2 linked regions of the Homo sapiens genome follow. Each later gene encodes a partner of the first gene's protein in a complex. Each region holds a gene or a part of one and is shown on either strand. Other genes may lie near its edges.

Region 1 (7,040 bases):
TAAAGTTAAAAGCTGCTTCTAGTTTAATATGTTCTTTTAATTGTTGAATGTTAAAGAATTTTGTATTTTAAGTTACTGGCATGAGATACACAGGTAATGGTTATGGTTATTCTTATCAAATACGGATTAACTGCTTGAAATTATTACGGATAATAAGGTATATATCTAAATAAGTGGGTAATTTGGTGGCCAAACTAAGGTGTAGCACATAGAGAAAAAAAGCTACTTTTTTACCACATTATTCATGAAATTTTCCAAGGTACCCCCTTTACTAAAAATGATTTGCTTATTCTTGAGATACTTCATGGTGAAGTTGTTTTAACTAATTTATTCTGTTAACCTCATTTTCATTTCAGTATCTCTTTATTGGAAATTGTTTTGTAACTGTTTTTGTGATCTTTTTTTTTTTTTTTTTGAAGAGATGAGGTCTTGCTATGTTGTCCAGGCTGGCCTCCAACTCCTGGGCTCTCAAGCAGTCCTAGTGCCACAGCCTCTCAAGTATCTTGTCCTCCTATTTTTGTCTCCTCTTTTAAACTTAAGCATTATGCTTCGGATAGTCTAAAATAATTGATTATATAAAACTGATTCGTTTTGACTCCAGAGTACATTAGGCTAATACTTTCTTATTTGATTTTCCTTTCTAAATAGCCTTGCTTGGCTGGGCACTGTGGCTCACGCCTGTAATCCCAGCACTTTGGGAGGCCGAGGTGGGCAGATCACCTGAGGTCGGGAGTTTGAGACCAGCCTGACCAACATGGAGAAACCCTGTCTCTACTAAAAATACAAAATTAGCCGGGTATGGTGGTGCATGCCTGTAGTCCCAGCTACTCGGGAGTCTGAGGCAGGAGAATTGCTTGAACCTGGGAGGCAGAGGTTGCGGTGAGCTGAGATCGAGCCATTGCACTCCAGCCTGGGCAACAAGAGCGAAACTGTCTCAAAAAAATAATAAATAATAGCCTTGCTTATGCTAATATGATTAATTTACATTTCTTAGTACAGTTTTGTAGTTAAAGTAAACTCCTCATGATAGGCTGTGAGAAGATAATCTTGGATTCAGAAGTTTGTCTAAAAATTCATGGAGGATGAACTTCCTTTGTGCTGGTAAGAGCTGGCTGTAGGGCAGTTGTTTCCAAGTTGTTCCTCTGGCCAGTAGTATCGGTACCACCTGGTAATTTGTTAGAAAGAGATTCTTATCCCTACTACAAATGTGCTGAATAAGAAACTGGGTCTTGGGCCCAGCAGTTTGTTTAACACGTCCTTCAGCTGATTTTGATGCGTGGTAAAGTTTTAGACCATTACTATGGGGTATTATAATAAAAGAGACCCCTTTCTTGATTTCTAGTGAATGGCGTTTGGGACAGTAATTGACTTAGGATTTTTTTTTCTTAATTGACTGGCATGGAAAAGAAATGCTGTTTGTATTCTCAGGTGCAGATTTTGCATCCTGAATGAAAGTAATGGATACTCATAAGTGAGTAATTAAAATAGCATGTAGGAACTTTTATCTTGAAATTTAATTTTCTTTCAGGAGGCAAAACCTTCAACTGAGGACTTGGGGGATAAGAAGGAAGGTGAATATATTAAACTCAAAGTCATTGGACAGGTGAGTTTCATTGTTTTTCTCTTTTGAGTCCCCTTCAATGTGAATACTTTTTCACAGGAAAAAAAATTATTTAAGGCAAATTATTTTAAAATGACTATGTATGCATTTTAATTTACTGTGTATGCATCTGTTAGAGGTAGAAGAGGCCGATACTGTTTTTTAAATTACTCTGCCAGGCAGTTTTAGATCATCTTAATTTTTCCAAATAGGAATGTTTTCTTGGTTAGTGTGCTTCAGGGGCAAATACAGTGAATACTATTAAGTGTTAAGGCTAGGGCCAACCTTAAGTAAAAGGTTTATCAGCCCTTTTCCTGACCCTTTTCTGGCCCCCTATTTCCCTAGACTCTAGTCTGTATCTTTTTTTTTTTTGAGATGGAGTCTTGTTCTGTCACCCAGGCTGGAGTGCAGTGGTGCGATCTCGGCTCACTGCAAGCTCCGCCTGCCGGGTTCACGCCATTCTCCTGCCTCAGCCTCCCAAGTAGCTGGGACTACAGGCGCCCGCCACCATGCCCGGCTAATTTTTTTTGTATTTTTAGTAGAGACGGGGTTTCACTGTGTTAGCCAGGGTGGTCTTGATCTCCTGGCCTCGTGATCCGCCAGCCTCGGCCTCCCAAAGTGCTGGGATTACAGGCGTGAGCCACCGCGCCTGGCTCTAGTCTGTATCTTATTGATTCTGAAATGTTAATTAAGGTTAGCTAACAACCGTTGGAGGAATGAATCTACATAGTTACGTGGGTTTTCTAAAGGACAAAAGACAGAGAATTGGTGGAAGGGTGGACTCGCCCAGGATGGAGTGCAGTGGTATTTCTATTGAAGTGTGACAGTACCATTTCCCTATATTCTCCCAAACATGGGATATTAACAGTCTTTAAATTTTGTTCAAATATGCTAGGTAAAACATTTTTGTTTATTTTTCATTTACCTGATTATTAATAAGGTATAATTTTTTTGGTCTGTTACATTTATATTCTTCTGTTAATTGTGTTCATACCCTTTTCCCATTTTTCTGTGATTATCTTATTTTGAAGACTTTTATTTTTTATTTTCAAAATTTTTTAAATTTAAATTTTATTTTGAAATGGAGTTGTGCTCTTGTTGGCAGGCTGGAGTGCAATGGCGTGATCTTGGCTCACTGCACCCTTCACTCCTGGGTTCAGGTGATTCTCCTGCCTCAGCCTCCCGAGTAGCTGGGACTACAGGTGCCTGCCACGAAGCCTGACTAATTTTTTTAAAAAATATTTTTAGTAGAGACGGGGTTTCCCCATGTTGGCCAGGCTGGTCTCGAACTCCTGACCTCAGGTGATCCCCACCCGTCTCGGCCTCCCAGAGTTCTGGGATTACAGGTGTGAGCCACCATGCCGGCTTTATTTTGAAAACTTTTAAAAGATAAAATTCACATACTATAAAATTCACTATTTTAAAGTATATAATTCAGGGGCTTTAGTATTATTCACAAGTGTGTGCAGCCATCACCACTACTAATTCCAGAACATTTGCATTACCCCAAAAAGACACCCTGTACCCATTAGCAGTCATTCCCCATCCTATTTCCTCCAGCCAGTGACAACCATGATTCTACTTTCTGTCTCTATAGGTTTGCCTTTTGTGGACATTACATATAAATGGAATCATAAGATATATGGCTTTTTTTTTTTTTTTTTTTTTTTGAGGCAAGGGTCTCGCTGTGTCACCCAGGCTGGAGTGCAGTGGCCTGATCTCAACTCACTGCGACCTCAACCTCCTGGGTTCAAGCGACCCTCCTGCCATAGCCTCCTGAGTAGCTGGGATTTCAGGTGTGCACCACCATGCCCAGCTAATTTTTGTATTTTTAGTAGAGATGGGGTTTCGCCATGTTGGCCAGGCTGGTCTCAAACTCCTGACCTCAGATGATCCGCCTACCTCGGCCTCCCACAGTGTTGGGATTACAGGCATGAGCCACCATGCCTAGCTTTGATATGTGACTTTTTATTCTGGTTTGTTTCTTCTTTTCTGCCTTGCTTCCCTGTTCCTCTTCCCCTCCCTCCCCTCCCCCCCTCCCCATCCCCGTCTCCCTCTCCAGGGTTCTCGCTATGTTGCTCAGGCTGGTCTTGAACTCTTGGGCTTAAGTGATTCTCCCTCTTTGGCCTAAAGTTCTGGGATTATAGGTGTGAGCCACTATGCCTGGCCTGGCTTCTTTGTTTTAGCATGTTTTCAAGGTTCATTCATGCTGTAGCATGTATCAGTACTATATTCCTTTTAATGGCTGAATTCTGTTCCATTATATGGGTAGAATATATTTTGTTTTCCATTTATCAGTTGATATTTAGTTTGTCCCCATATTTTGGCTACTATTAATAATGTTGCTGTGAACATTCATGTGTGTTTTTGTATGGACATATGTTTTCAGCTCCCTTGGATATATACCTAGGAGTGGAATTGCTGGGTCTAGTATGCAACTATATGTTTTACTTTTTGAGGAACTGCCAAACTGTTTTCAGCAGTGGCCCTACCATCTTACATTCCTAGCAGCAACATATGAGGGTTTCAGTTTTTCCATATTCTGGTCAACACTTGTAATTATCCGTATTTTTGGTTATAATCCTAGTGGGTGTGAAGTGGTATCTCACTGTGGTTTCAACTTGCTCTTTCCTGATGGCTAATGATGCCAAGCATTTTTTTATGTACTTATTGGCCATTAGTACATCTTCTTTGGAAAAATGAAGTTCTTTAGATCTTTTGCCCATTTTTAAATTGGGTTAGTTGTCTTTTTATTGTTGAGTGGTAATATGTCTTTTATTCTGGGTATTAGACCTTTATCATATATATGATTTGCATGGATTTTCTCCTATCTTTGAGTTGTCTTTTCACTTTCTTGGTTTTATTCTTTGCAGCGTAAAGTTTTTAATTTTGGTAAATTAAGTTCATCTGTTTTTTCTTTTGTTGCTTGTAATTTATCTAAGAAACCATTACCTAATCCAGGGTCACAAAGGTTTACGCTTGTGGTTTAAGAGTTTTAAGGCTGGGCACAATGGCTCACACCTGTAATCTCAGCATTTTGGGAGGCCAAGGTGGGCAGATTGCTTGAGCTCAGGAGCTGGAGACCAGCCTGGGCAACATGGCGAAACCCCATCTCTACAAAAAATATAAAAAATTAGTAGGGCGTGGTGGCACATGCCTGTAGTCCCAGCTACTCAGGAGGCTGAGCAGGGAGAATCACTTGAGCCTGGGAGGTCAAGGCTGCAGTAAGCTGTGATCACGTGACTGTACTCCAGTCTGGGTGACAGAGTGAGACCCTGTCTCAAAAAAAAAAAAAAAAAAGTTTTATGGTTTTATTTATAGTTTTAGCTCTTACATTTAAATCTTTCATCATTTTGAATAATTTTTTATGGGTGTTTGTCCCAGACCATTAGTTGAAAAGACTGTCCTTTTCTCACTGAATTGTTCTGGTATCCTTGTCAAAAAATTGACTATAGATATAAGGGTTTTTTCTTGGCTCTCAATTTTATGCCATTGATCTATCTATATGTCCATATGCCATGGAATGTCTTTTTAAGAATTATTAATTTGTGGGATTTTTAAAAATATTGTCTTCATTTTCCTTGTCTGTTACATGTTATGAATATTTCCTCCAGTATGTCTTAACTTTTGTTTATGGCATCTTTTACTATACAGACGTTTTATGTTTTTATTAAGTCAAATTTATCCACCTCTTTTTTTTATGGTTTCTAGGTTAAAATCATGCTTTGCAATAGGGCATCCCAAGGCCAAAATTAGGGGAAAAAAATTCTCCCTTGAGGGGAAAATATTGAGAATTTTTTTTTTTTTTTTTTTGATGTGGAGCCTTGTCCTGTCATGCAGGCTGGAGTGCAGTGGTACTTCCGGCTCACTGCAACATCCGCCTCCCAGGTTCAAGCACTTCTCCTGCCTCAGCCTCCCGAGTAGTTGGGATTACATGCAACTGTCACCACACCCGGCTAATTTTTTATATTTTTAGTAGAGATAGGGTTTCATCATGTTGGCCAGGCTGGTCTTGAACTCCTGACCTCGTGATCTGCCCGGCTTGACCTCCCAAAGTGTTGGGATTACAGGAGTGAGCCACTGCACCTGGCCAAAAAAATTTTAATGTTAGCTCTTTAATTCATCTGCAAGTGATTTTTTTTTTTTTTTTTTGAGATGGCGTCTCACTCTGTTGCCCAGGCTGGAGTACAGTGGCGAGATCTAGGTTCACTGCAGCCTCCGCGTCCTGGGTTCAAGCGATTCTCCTGCCTCACCCTCCCGAGTAGCTGGGATTACAGGCATGCGCCACCACGCCTGGCTAATTTTTTTGTATTTTTAGTAGAAATGGCGTTCACCATGTTGGTCAGGCTGGTCTCGAACTCCTGAACTCAAATGATCCTCCTGCTTTGGCCTCCCAAAGTGTTGGGATTATAGGCATGAGCCACCATGCCCAGCCTGGAATTGATTTTAATGTATAGCATGAGGTTTGCTGTAGAATTTTATCTGTTTATGAAATGATCTATGTGAAGATAATTTTATTTCTTCATAGTTACAGTCACAAGAAAAATACTGTAAATGTGCAGCTTCTGCAAATACACATTTGTGAATGTGATATGTAGTCATGAAGTTTGGCTTTGAAAGTTTACATTATGCAAGTAACAGTATTTTTTCTGAGGATTGGCTGGCTGATAGTTTGTTTCACAATCTGAGCAGAATAAAATAATTTTTGGTCTCACAAATCAGTTTGACTAACTCAGGTTCTTACTCATTTTACTCATGTGAGAGAAACCAGATTCCATGTGGTGATTTTTTTTTTTTTTTTTTTTTTGAGATGGAGTACTGTTCTGTTTCCCAGGCTGGAGTGCAGTGGCGTGTTCTTGGCTCACTGCAACCTACACCTCCTGGGTTCAAGCAATTCTTCTGCCTCAGCCTCCTGAGTAGCTGGGACTACAGGTGTGTGCCACCATGCCTGGCTAATTTTTGTATTTTTAGTAGAGACGGGGTTTCACTATACTGGCCAGGCTGGTCTTGAACTCCTGACCTTGTGATCCGCCTGCCTTGGTCTCCCAAATTGCTGGGATTACAGGCATGAGCCACTGCGCTCAGCCCCATGTGGTGATTTTTTATGGCAGGAATAAATTTCTCAGTCGCTTATTGTATAAAATTGAATTTTATACAATTAATTATTATCTAATTAACTGCTTTTCTCCTAGGCGACCACCTTCAGTGACACTTCACTTGGGGGGACAGACTTTTTGTTTTGAGTTGCTATTGGGATAAATAAAAGATGCGATAGTTCATCTTTTATTTTGACAATAGAATGGCAAATGAAGGAATGCATTTACTTAGACTTTTACTTATACTGATAATTTTAACACTCAAGACTGATTAACTTTGTTTTACTCGGTTTCTTTTGTAATGGGTATACAGTAACTTTGAGGATGATTACACTGTTTTAAGA
Region 2 (7,040 bases), about 93 Mb from region 1:
AAATTTCCAGATAATTTAGAGTTTCAATCTTATTTTCTCTAATGTCTCAAAGCTTGCCAAATTAATTATTCACTTACAGTAACATTACTGTAGGCCCAGTTATGACCTGTGAGACCCAGATATTGATATATTACAAATACTTTTACAAGTGGGTGATTCTAATGTGTTCCCAGGGTAGAGAACCACTATTTTGAAATAATTTTGAATTCTTCTGCCACATGTCCCTTGGGGTTATTTTTTAAATTTTTGCTTTTGGCAAAAAAGTTGCTGAACAATTTTGTTTTTGTTTTTGTTTTTGAGACAGGATGTCACTCTGTTGCCCAGGCTGGAGTGCAGTGGCATGAACACAGCTCACTGCTGCCTTGACCTCCTGGGCTCTAAAGCAATCCTTCCACCTCAGCTTCCCAAGTAGCTGGGACCACAGGTGTGTACCACCATGCCTAGCTAATTTTTACATTTTTTGTAGAGACAGGGGTCTCACTATGTTACCCAGGCTGGTCTCAAACTCCTGGGCTCAAGCAGTCCTGCCACCTTGGCCTTGCACAGTGCTGGGATTGTAGGCATGAGCCACTGCACCTGGCCCTGAACAGTTATTTTTGAGCCCCCAAGTTGGTATCTCATCCAGATCAGTGGTTACTGTTCTCAGGAAGTTCCCATGCAACCTGTGGCTTTTGTTCTCAGATCATTCCTTTGCAATATGTCCTTAAGAATTTTTGTCTTTCTGTCTCTTTTTTTTGAGACGATCATTCTGTTGCCCAGGCTGGAGTGCAGTGGCGCAGATCTCAGTTTACTGCAACCTCTGCTTGCTAGGTTCAAGTGATCTCCTGCCTCAGCCTCCTGAGTAGCTGGGATTACAGGCATGCACTGCAACACCCCGCTAATTCTTTTAGTATTTTTAGTAGAGATGGGGTTTCGCCATGTTGGCCAGGCTTGTCTCGAACTCCTGACCTCAAGTGACCAGCCCGCCTCGGCCTCCTAAAGTGCTGGGATTACAGGCATGAGCCACCACACCCGGCCCTCTCTCCTCTTTAAAAACATTTTTTTTTCCCCTCCATTAAATCTGTCTGAAAGAGAGTTGATTTTTTATTGTGTTCTTTAAGGTACTGAGTTATGTATCCTGTGACATTTTTTCTTTTTCATGAGAGTTTTTAGCAGAAGGTGTAGGGTTCTTTAAGACAGTGATTCAGCAAGTGATAAAAAGTTGAGAGGTGTTTCTTTCCTCTAAGATAGTGGGGACTTGGTCATCTAAATTGAGGTATGGGATGGAGAAGTTTCTAGTTTTCACCTTCTTGCAGGTATGCGAGAGTGAGACCATCATTGTTCCCCCATACAGAAGTAGGATGCTTAACAATCTAATACCCTTTGGGCAGTTGAAGTCAGTGAGATTCTCCCAAGGCTGCTTTCCACCAGCCCAACCAAGAAATCTACATTCCAGCATTAGCTTCTTCAGGAAGAAGTAGAGATGCAGAAATTATAAACATGTTTAGGCCATTGTGGCTAATTTGGAAGTAGCAGGTTTGGCCTGCTGAGCTAAGTTTACAAAATTTCAAGGTGGGTACTTGAAATTTTAGAAGTAGGTAAAAAGAACCTACTTCTTTACTTGGAAGTCCTTGTGTAGTTTAGTATTAGGAAGTTTATCCAAGGCAGTGACAGTCTTATCTTTGTATCGCTAAGCATAACAATAATAAATGTACTCTGTACTCAACAGTATGAGTTGAATTTACTAGCTTTTTTTTTTTTCCTTTTTTTCCTTTTTTTTTTTGGTGACAGAGTCTTGCTCTGTCACCCAGGCTGGAGTACAATGGCACGATCTCTGCTCATTGCAACCTCCGCCTCCCAAGTTCAAGCGATTCTCCTGCCTTAGCTTCCTGAGTAGCTGGGATTACAGGCACCCGCCACCACGCCCGGCTAATTTTTTTTTTTTTTTTTTTTTTAAAGACAGAGTCTTGCTCTGTCGTCCAGGCTGGAGTGCAGTGGGGCGGTATCTGATCACTGCAACCTCTGCCTCTCAAGTTAAAGTGATTCTCCTGCCCCAGCCTCCTGAGTAGCTGGGATCAGTCACCCATGACCACACACTGCTAACTTTTTTTTTTTTTTTTAAAGACAGAATCTTGCTCTGTTGCCCAGGCTGGAGTGCAGTGGGGCAATCTCAGCTCACTGCAACTTCTGCCCCCCAGGTTGAAGCGATTCTTCTGCCTCAGCCTCTCAAGTAGCTGGGACCACAGGCGCATACCACCACTCCCGGCTTTTCTTTTCTTTCTTTCTTTCTTTTTTTTTTTGAGACGGAGTTTCACTCTTGTTGCCCAGGCTGGAGTGCAATGGTGCCATCTTGGCTCACCGCAACCTCCGCCTCCTGGGTTCAAGCGATTCTCCTGCCCCAGCCTCCCGAGTAGCTGGGATTACAGGCATATGCCACCATGCCTGGTTAATTTTGTATTTTTAGTAGAGACGGGGTTTCTCCATGTTGGTCAGGCTGGTCTTGAACTCCTGACCTCAGGAGATGCGCTCACCTCGGCCTCACAAAGTGCTGGGATTACAGGCGTGAGCCACTGCGCCCAGCCTAATTTTTGTATTATTAGTAGAGATGGGGTTTCACCATGTTGGCCAGGCTGGTCTCGAACCCCTGACCTCAGGTGACCTCGGCCTCCCAAAGTGCTGGGATTACAGGCGTGAGGAATTTACTAGAATAATATAATTTTAAACATTTAAAATTGATGTACATATTACATCATCAGGAATTAGAGGGATTGATAAAATAAGAGGGGGATGAAAAATGTAAAAAATAGATACTAGTGTTTAAATATCCTGATTTATTCATCAGATAAAAATTTCCAATGGGCAAATACTGGAGCAGCTGTGTTTGGAACACAGTCAGTCGGAACCCAGTCAGCCGGTAAAGTTGGTGAAGATGAAGATGGTAGTGATGAAGAAGTAGTTCATAATGAAGATATCCATTTTGAACCAATAGTGTCACTACCAGAGGTAAATGTTAAGGAATTAACCTTTTACTAATAACTTATTTTTCATTTTTAAGTTTTACCCTGGCTTGATCTGTCAGGGTATAATTGTTTGCATTTAAGAATGTTTACTGTTTGAAATGGAAGCTCTATTTATTAGATGTCTAGCCTTTAAGTATAAATTATCTTTTTACAGTTTTTACATAAATATTGGTTTGTAAATTCTATATGTAATTATTGGTAAGAAATAATTTTTTCTTATGTTTCTAGAATATCATGTTTGTTTTTATAACATGATTCTGGGGAAAAATTAACCTCATACTCACTAAAGTCCTTTCAATAAATGTTAACCTTGTATGTTTTTTGGACAAGAACATTGTTCTAGGAAAATTACTTTGTCATTTTTTAACCTCAGTCAGTAGCTAATATTTCTCTTCAGTAGCAAACACTTTTGAAACCTCTCTGTCCTATAAAGAAAAGCATTTAATTTCCAAAGGGAAAATGAATATTATATAAAAGAAAATGTTTAATGATAAATCAGGTCTTTACTCCCTCAGCCAAATCAGATATATTCCTAGCCCTAAGATATATAACCAGTTATCACATTAACAAATTCTCTTTGTCATCACAAAGAAAATGCCTTAAAAGAATTTGGATCTTTGAAATTTGTCATGGAATTTATTATAAGCAGCAGCTTATAGAGAATTTCATCTCCTATTATAGGTAGAAGTAAAATCTGGAGAAGAAGATGAAGAAATTTTGTTTAAAGAGAGAGCCAAACTTTATAGATGGGATCGGGATGTCAGTCAGTGGAAGGAGCGCGGTGTTGGAGATATAAAGATTCTTTGGCATACAATGAAGAATTATTACCGGATCCTAATGAGAAGAGACCAGGTTTTTAAAGTGTGTGCAAACCACGTTATTACTAAAACAATGGAATTAAAGCCCTTAAATGTTTCAAATAATGCTTTAGTTTGGACTGCCTCAGATTATGCTGGTGAGTTTTTACATTCAAATGCTACTTTTCATTTTTTGGACTTTTCTAAAATCTATAACAAACAAAACAACTTATAACAGTTATTTTAATACTAAGGTCACTGCTTCCCCTTTCCCTCCCTGCCAGATGGAGAAGCAAAAGTAGAACAGCTTGCAGTGAGATTTAAAACTAAAGAAGTAGCTGATTGTTTCAAGAAAACATTTGAAGAATGTCAGCAGAATTTAATGAAACTCCAGAAAGGACATGTATCACTGGCAGCAGAATTATCAAAGGAGACCAATCCTGTGGTGTTTTTTGATGTTTGTGCGGACGGTGAACCTCTAGGGCGGATAACTATGGAATTATTTTCAAACATTGTTCCTCGGACTGCTGAGAACTTCAGAGCACTATGCACTGGAGAGAAAGGCTTTGGTTTCAAGAATTCCATTTTTCACAGAGTAATTCCAGATTTTGTTTGCCAAGTAGGTATTATTAAGTACATACCACAATTGAGGTCTTGAAGAGTGCACCACACTAATGGGAAATTTGAGTGTTTTTCCTTGACCTCATCCTGTAGTTTTGTTAAAGATTTCTTTAGGTTTTCCACACATGGAATCACATGGCATCACTACCCATTCCCTGCTCCTGCCTAAAACTTTCAACCTAAAATAATTGAGGCTGGGCACAATGACTCATACCTGTAATTCCAGCACTTTAGGAGGCCAAGGCAGGCAGATTGCTTGAGCCCCGGAATTTGAGACCAGCCTGGGTAACATGGCAAAAATCTCGTCTGGACAAAAAAATACAAAAATTAGCCAGGTGTGGTGGTGTGCGTCTGTGATCCCAGCTACAAGGAAGCTGAGGTGGGAGCATCCAGGAGGCCAAGGCTGCAGTGAGCTAGGTTTGCACCACTGCACTCCATCCTGGGCGACAGAGTGAGACAGCCTGTCATTAAAAAAAAAAAAAAAAAAAAAAAAAAAAATCAAATTTTCAGTACTTGAGATCTAGTAGAAACTAAGGGATGGGAAAAACCTTTTCATTTTTCATCTTCTTTCCAACAATATGAATTTCTTAGTTTTCAAACTATACTCAGGAAAGCTGGGCTTTAGGATTTAACATGTAGTGATGAGTTCTGTGTGTATTTTAATATTTTACTCAGGATTCCTATTAATTGAAAAAAATTTTTAACTTTTTTATTATAAATCTTTTTTTCAGGGAGGAGATATCACCAAACATGATGGAACAGGCGGACAGTCCATTTATGGAGACAAATTTGAAGATGAAAATTTTGATGTGAAACATACTGGTCCTGGTTTACTATCCATGGCCAATCAAGGCCAGAATACCAATAATTCTCAATTTGTTATAACACTGAAGAAAGCAGAACATTTGGACTTTAAGCATGTAGTATTTGGGTTTGTTAAGGATGGCATGGATACTGTGAAAAAGATTGAATCATTTGGTTCTCCCAAAGGGTCTGTTTGTCGAAGAATAACTATCACAGAATGTGGACAGATATAAAATCATTGTTGTTCATAGAAAATTTCATCTGTATAAGCAGTTGGATTGAAGCTTAGCTATTACAATTTGATAGTTATGTTCAGCTTTTGAAAATGGACGTTTCCGATTTACAAATGTAAAATTGCAGCTTATAGCTGTTGTCACTTTTTAATGTGTTATAATTGACCTTGCATGGTGTGAAATAAAAGTTTAAACACTGGTGTATTTCAGGTGTACTTGTGTTTATGTACTCCTGACGTATTAAAATGGAATAATACTAATCTTGTTAAAAGCAATAGACCTCAAACTATTGAAGGAATATGATATATGCAATTTAATTTTAATTCCTTTTAAGATATTTGGACTTCCTGCATGGATATACTTACCATTTGAATAAAGGGACCACAACTTGGATAATTTAATTTTAGGTTTGAAATATATTTGGTAATCTTAACTATTGGTGTACTCATTTATGCATAGAGACTCGTTTATGAATGGGTAGAGCCACAGAACGTATAGAGTTAACCAAAGTGCTCTTCTCTAGAATCTTTACACCTCCTGTGTGGTTACAAGTTAACTTTGTAAGTAGCGTACCTTCCTTCCTTAAAATATCTAGCTTCCTGTGCCCTTTCATAGATATTCGATTAATTTTTACATTTTAAACAAGTTGACTATTTCCTTTAGGGGTTTTGTTTCAAACTTTTCTGTCATCTGTCTCTACTACCTCAGAAACTGCAGCTTGGTTCTGATGATAGAAATTGAATTTTTCCTTGTAGTTATTGTGATAAAGTATGAATATTTTTAGAAAGTCTATACCATGTTCTTTCGTTAAAGATTTGCTTTATACAAGATTGTTGCAGTACCTTTTTCTGGTAAATTTTGTAGCAGAAATAAAATGACAATTCCTAAGAGCCACTGACATCCAAAAAATTCATTACTTACGCTTCGGGTTCATTCTAAAGTAAGGAAGACAATTTAAAGGCAGTAAATTCAAACTGCTGCATAATTTCCAGAGCTCCTAGTTTCTCAAGTTTGATACACACCAAAAACGTATTTGGAAATGGCTTGTATCAAATGTTAGGCAAATTGCTAAAGAAAAGAGGATGTTCTTATTGGCCTACTCAATATGGAACTACAAAGAATCCAGGTAGAACACAAAATTTTGTATATTGCAATTATGAATATTGACTGTCTTCCACCCATCTGTGTTCTTTCGGGTGAAATTACCTCATTTTATTTAGTGAGGAAAGACAGGTTTATTCCCTGTTACATGGGGATTTGGAAATTGGGTATCCTAAAGCAAGTAACTGTTCAACCACCAGTCAAAAGAGGGGAGGGATGTTGTGCGAGTAATGAGTGATGGTATACCATCACCATTCCACTCGGCCACAAAGCCAGATACTTGAAATAAACCTACTCCAAATGTATCAGTTCAGTCTTGAACCATGGATTACATATGTTTACACTAAATATTTCAAATTGGCTTATTTGGAAATCTATGTAATATAAACTGATGTAAAGTGTGTTGTAACTTTTCAGCTGAGACAGTTGATGCCTTCGTCATGATTTTAGAATAAATTCTTAAGTTAATGCAAGTGCTTTTTAAG

The links. The genes of interacting proteins can lie anywhere in the genome.
Region 2: the proteins of SUMO1 (region 1) and RANBP2 are in contact, whole or in part, in a crystal structure (PDB 1Z5S), measured with the Homo sapiens proteins. Residues at the interface, in NP_001005781.1 of Homo sapiens: Asp30, Ser31, Ser32, Glu33, Ile34, His35, Phe36, Lys37, Val38, Lys39, Thr41, Thr42, His43, Lys46, Leu47, Ser50, Arg54; in NP_006258.3 of Homo sapiens: Asp2631, Val2632, Leu2633, Ile2634, Val2635, Tyr2636, Glu2637, Leu2638, Pro2654, Thr2656, Cys2659.

What each region holds. Positions count from the first base shown.
Region 1 is NC_000002.12:202,214,595-202,221,634, reverse strand, and holds part of SUMO1 (small ubiquitin-related modifier 1 isoform a precursor), read left to right. Parts: intron 1-1,528; coding exon 1,529-1,603; intron 1,604-7,040. UniProt on the Homo sapiens protein: Ubiquitin-like protein that can be covalently attached to proteins as a monomer or a lysine-linked polymer.
Region 2 is NC_000002.12:108,778,448-108,785,487, forward strand, and holds part of RANBP2 (E3 SUMO-protein ligase RanBP2), read left to right. Parts: intron 1-2,821; coding exon 2,822-2,982; intron 2,983-3,680; coding exon 3,681-3,954; intron 3,955-4,080; coding exon 4,081-4,415; intron 4,416-5,148; coding exon 5,149-5,454; 3' UTR 5,455-7,040. UniProt on the Homo sapiens protein: E3 SUMO-protein ligase which facilitates SUMO1 and SUMO2 conjugation by UBE2I. Involved in transport factor (Ran-GTP, karyopherin)-mediated protein import via the F-G repeat-containing domain which acts as a docking site for substrates.